Regions from separate parts of the Homo sapiens genome. Here region 2 is linked to region 1. The links come from fine-mapping of genetic effects on plasma protein levels. Region 1 holds a variant in brackets. A gene starts in the other region. All regions are shown on their reverse strands.

Region 1 (2,500 bases):
ACTGTGTTTTGGCCAAAGGCTGTTCCTAGGGGTAGAAAGCAAGGAGCCGTTTAGGGAGTAGGAGGACTGTCTCCTGGGGCCCAGCAAATGTCACCACTGTGTTTGGCCAAATAGCTTGTTGTTTTCTCTGGAGGCCTGGGGACCACGAGCTGGGGCAGGGAGCCCTCTTGCCTTTGCCCCATCCCATTGATAGTCCATGTTCCCATTGAGGACCCATTCCCAGACGGTCCATCACTTCAGGGCACAGAGAGGTCACCCAGCCTTCTGCTTCTTCCCTCAGGGCGAGCACCTTGGGAGAGGCACGAGAACACACATCTATTCTGGGACCCTGATGGATTACAAGGATGACGAAGGAACTTCTGAAGAGAAGAAGATAAAAGTGATCCTCAAAGTCTTAGACCCCAGCCACAGGGATATTTCCCTGGCAAGTGTCTTCCTCTGAACTCCTCCCCTCCCCTCTCCCGTTTCTGGAGCCAGTGGAACACAATGGGTTGAGAAGAACCCTTGCCCTTCTTGTGGCCCAGTGGTTTTCAAACTTGCCTTTTACTCAGAATTTTTTTCTCCACATATGATCTTAGTGGACCCTGCATGTAGAGTAAGTGAGGTGGGTTGAACAGCTCCTCACACTCAGCCTGTGCCCTCCCTTCCACCCCCAACCCCCACCTTTCCTAAGGACAGGTCCAGGTGGCTGTGCTGTGGAGCCCTAGGACTCTGGCCAAATGGTTCAAAGTTCCTGATACAGTCCATGGCTCTCACCACACAGTCTGGAAAACGAAAGCCCAGAGGAGTAAAAGGACTCACCCAGGATTCTACAGACTATTAGAGTGACACAGTCAAATCTTGAGCAGAGATCGGCTGCCTTCATTTCCCCTTTGTTCCAGCATAGTGCTAAATATGGGTATTTCCCAGAGCTGAAAGGAAGAGAGAGAGGTGGGCATGAGTATCCAGTGGGAAAATTCTTAGCCAGCTTCTCCCACCAGCCCTGCTCTGCATCCTGTTAGGTTTTCTAAATAAACCTCACATCCCTGCCAGGTTGGCCCAGAGAACAAGGCTTGGCAGTGCCTCTGGACAGCCAAGGCCAGAGGATTGATGTTCAGGGCCTGGGGTGGCGACAGTGGTGAGCTTTCCTGGGTCCACTGGCTTTCCCCTCAACAGAGCCCCTGGGGAGCAGCCCCCTGGAGGCTGGCCTGAGACATTCCTATGTCCTGCTCGCCCACAGGCCTTCTTCGAGGCAGCCAGCATGATGAGACAGGTCTCCCACAAACACATC[G/A]TGTACCTCTATGGCGTCTGTGTCCGCGACGTGGAGAGTAAGTGTGTTCTCTTTCAAAGGGGTGGGTGGCCTGGCTGGGGAGCTTGGGTGCTGTGGAGATGGTGGAGGCTCTTCCCACCCTCACGTTGCCCAGGCTTCTTGCCTTTCTTTTTGCAGTTGAGGAGATTGAGGGACTGAGCAGGTCATTTGCTTAAGTTAATAGTGGAGGTGGAACTAAAACCAATTGCTTTTCATTCATTTGTGTAATGTTTTCTTGTCAACGCTGGCCAAGAACCCTACACTGTGCTAGACCTGGGAGGCTGAGGTGAGTGAAATGAGGTCAAGGCCACAAGAGTCAGGCCCAAGGAGCTCTGGGCAGGTGAGCGAGGTGAGCGCACCCCACAAGCAGCAAGACGCTGGCTCCTCGAATGGACTGGCTTCCATTTTAACCACAGGCAGGCTTGGCCCTTTCTTGGTTGTCAAGCCACTGAGCCGGTGGGCCCTTGGGCTGCTGCTGCACACTGAGATGGAGGGGTGGCCTTGGCCTCTGAGTTCCTGACATGTAAGTTTGGAAGAAGAGCGATTTTTTTTTTAACCCCAAGTGACTTCTTCCCTGTGGAATCCAACAATGTGAGCTGTTCCGTGTACTCACACAGGAGTCCTGTTGAGAGGGAAGTTTTGCCGTGTGAGCGGCCTGACCTCTGCATCACAGTGTGTTGTAGAACAGCAGCAGTGGTGGCGGTTGTTCCCAGAGCCCTTGTTCTCTGTGTCAGGCCCTCCGCCAAGGCTTTCCAGGCCTTGTGACATTTAGCCGCCATCTGTTATTACAGATGAGGGAATTGAGGCTCAGAGAAGTGTCACTTGCTCAGTGCCACCGTTTAGAAGAAGAGCTTGGGGTTGAACTTGGCCTTTCCAGCTCTGAAGCCCCTGCACCATTGCACCCCCCAAGGATATCTGTGTACTCTGAGGCCGAGTAGTGTCCACTGAAGTGGACTGTCGTAAGGGGATGAAGGAGAGGACCGTGCCACAGACCAGGTTCCAGACATGGCTATTTTTATGCCTACAGATATCATGGTGGAAGAGTTTGTGGAAGGGGGTCCTCTGGATCTCTTCATGCACCGGAAAAGCGATGTCCTTACCACACCATGGAAATTCAAAGTTGCCAAACAGCTGGCCAGTGCCCTGAGCTACTTGGTGAGAATGTCCTGATGTCCATAATGGTCCCACCAGAAACCAGAGTGTCCTGGGAGG
Region 2 (3,016 bases), not on the chromosome of region 1:
TGGTCTCAAGCTATCCTCTCGCCTCGGCCTTCCAAAAGTGTATTGTATCTTGATGCTTTCAGTAGAATGGTTCACCTTATAACCTCTACATGGCAGGATGCATAATCACCAGTTTATTCTGTAATACCTGAGCAAAAATTCAGCCTAGCTAATATGGCCTCTTTCACCACACTGACAAGATAAGGATGACGTCCACTTAGTTGGCCACCACCAGTATCATAATATTAGATAGTAGTTTAAAAATATATAATGGAAACTAGCTGGTGACCACCACTTTACTTCCAGTTTTGAAATTGCTGACTCATCCTATTTAAGAATCTGTTGTAAGCATCATTTAAGAATTAGTTTGGTTTAGACATACTTTGAAGTCAACATAGTTTTTAATGCATGGAATTACATAAAGTCAAATGAACTATATACCCTTGCTACATGCGGTCTTAATAACACTTGAAAAAATTGGCTGGATTTTCATTTAAAAGCCACCTTGAATAATGATTTTATTTCAGTGAAATTCGCTCGTATTTTTTCCAAGTTCCTTCGACATTCTAGATACACTATCGCTTCTCTAAGAGATAACTGGCTGGCGCAGAGTTGGAACCAATACAGACCCAGGCCTGACTGCCAAGCACTGACCATTCCTGCAAATTTCTCTCCCAGAAGACGTGTGCAAGCAAAGAAGAGGGCGATAATTTGATTTTGCAAAGGTAGGGATAGACGCGCACGCACAGACATCTGCACCGGCCCACAATGAGTTTGGGACGGGAGCAGTTAGGAAGTGGGGAGCTGCGGTACCTTTTCTTGGCCTTCCTGAGCTTGACTGGGTGCAGAACTCAGCCCTCAGGGCTGCGGGACAGCGTCTTCTCAGAAACCCGCAGCTTGGCTGGGGCCGCCAGACGCGCGTCCCTCACCCTCCCAGCGGAGCGCGGGGTGCCCGGCCCGCCTTGCGCTAGCCAGCAGCCTGGAACGCCGTAAGAGCGCAGCGCAGTAGGGAGTCGCACGCCAGGGGCAAAGGGACCTGCGATCTGCGCTCCTCCGGAAGCGGGAGGATGGCTAGGAGAGCCTCAGAAGTGTCATTAAAGGAAAAACCAAAAATTGAAGTTGCGGCTAAGTTTTCCCCATGAGAAGGCGGGGCAGCTCGGCCAGTAGGATAGACCGGAGGGTAACGCTGGAGCTGGGAGGGGCCCTGGGCGTAGGCTTTCGGGGAAAATTCCATCGCCCTTTCAACCACCACCACTCCCCTCCCAAGGCAAAGAAGCCGAGCTCTGTACCTCCATCGAGTCCTGGCTGCAGGGTGGGGGGCGACAGCCACCGCAGCCGGGAGGGTGCGGCCACCCAGTTCCCTCCCGGGGGGCGCCGGACTTCGAAGGCAGTGAGCGAGTCAGCTGGGATTCCCCCGGGCGCCTGCCACCCGGAGTCCCAACCCCTGGCGAAAAGAAAAGTGAAAGAGAAAGAGCCGGGAGCATAGGCGAAGACAAACACCTCCCGCGGAGACTGGGGGTGGGGCGGGTGGCGGCGGCTCCTGGATGACTGACTGCCCCAGGTGTCACTGCTTCCCGGCCTGTTTCCGTCCCTGCCGGGGCCTGGGGCGCAGAACTTGCAGGGCAAGCGCAAGGACATCGAGGAGCCCCAGCCCCGCCCTGCAGGAACACCAGCCACCGGTCTCCTCCTCTACCTGCCGGGACACCTGCAGAGAAGGCACAAGGATAGCCGCATCCCAAGCGACGGGCACCATGTGGGAAGCTTCCGCAGCTGAACCTGGAGACCCGGGCTGGGCTGGCGCGCATCCAAGTCTTCCTGAGGAAAGGGAAAAGGATGTCGGATCTGGATGCTGGGCGGCTACTCTAGACCGGCCTCTTGGTCCCCGCACAGGCTGCAAGAAGGAAACTTTGAAGTCCAACTAGGGGAAATGTTGGAAGAAGACACCCGGGTGGCAGCTTTGTGCAAGACAGTTGGTACAGGGAGTGAACTTAGAGCAATGAGCCTCTCTGCGGATCACTTTTCCAGCCTATTGTGTAGTCCAGTGTAAAATATCACACATGGTCCCATTTGATGGAAGCGTGAGATGTTGTTCTTGTAGTATTTTTACATTGGAGGAAGGAACTGAGTTGAGGCTGAGTGATTTGCATGCCATAAAGGCAGTAGCAAAGATCTCACGCTTAGTTTTGAAAGTACTTTGCAGAATCTTGCACTCTTGTGAATCACTGAAAATCCCTCTTGTACGGTGCTTTCCAAATTTTCAGAGTCATGGTTCAGAGAAAATGATGTCTTCCTGGAGCGCAGTTTAATTTAGTTTAAAATTTAATTATGTTTTTAATTACATAAATATGATAAATATCAAATAGAAAAATAATAGAAATTATTCACTTTCCATGTACATAAAGTTCCGTATAATATAATTTCATATTTTTATGAAAAATTTGAGTTTATTTTCATTAACTCAATTTTTTGATATCAGTTTTATATTTGAAATAATTACTGATGGACTTTTTGATGAGAATTACATCAAACTCTAGATAGTCTCCATTAACAAAATAAGTGAGGTATAAAAATGCAAAAACAGTTTTTACAACCATTCAAAATTTCACCATAGTTGGAAATTATATTTAAGAATATGAAGCCATCATCCATTTCTGTTCATGACGATGTCATGTTGAATTTTCTTGTGATGGTGTCAATGGATTTCAAGACCAGTCAGAATTTTTCATAGCAATACATTGAAGCTCTGATTTGCAGAATGAGCATGCACTGGGAGAGCAAGACTGCAGCTGGTTTGGATCTCACCACAAGAATATAGCAGCCACGGAAGGACTGATATGCATATGTGTGAAGATAGAGAATAGGGATGAACAAGTGTATCATGTGTCCCAACCTCATTTTGGACTGTTGCAGAGCTTCCTGGACTCCTGCCATGTAAACTCCTCTAGCACCTCTTTCAGCTCCTTTAATGGATACTGTGTTCTCTGCAGCCGGTGAAGGAAGCAGGTGTCCACGCTCAGCACCACCTAGCAGAGCTCAA

Which allele goes with the higher level. Positions count from the first base shown, and alleles are read on the strand shown. Strength reflects both the effect of a copy and how common the allele is.
As copies of G replace A in region 1, the plasma level of the protein whose gene starts at base 1,434 in region 2 goes down (weak association).

The links. PIP is the posterior inclusion probability: the model's chance that the variant is causal. The UK Biobank Pharma Proteomics Project read protein levels with antibody pairs (Olink). The fine-mapping took linkage between variants from a reference panel, not from the people measured, so its PIPs are less certain.
Region 2: it holds the start of IL15, and the variant in region 1 is fine-mapped to the plasma level of the IL15 protein (UK Biobank, PIP 0.93).

What each region holds. Positions count from the first base shown.
Region 1 is chr1:64,845,456-64,847,955 of GRCh38, reverse strand. JAK1 (Janus kinase 1) reads left to right here. Exons shown (of 25, transcript NM_002227.4): 13 at 281-424; 14 at 1,220-1,307; 15 at 2,316-2,443. Among named protein-coding and RNA genes, the nearest start is that of RAVER2, 100 kb to the right of the region's middle. RefSeq lists enhancers at 154-1,353, 1,171-1,672. The variant G/A (reference allele first, on the strand shown) is at 1,271.
Region 2 is chr4:141,635,001-141,638,016 of GRCh38, reverse strand. It overlaps IL15 (interleukin 15), which reads right to left and starts at 1,434. Exons shown (of 8, transcript NM_000585.5): 1 at 1,269-1,434. RefSeq lists an enhancer at 1,432-1,521.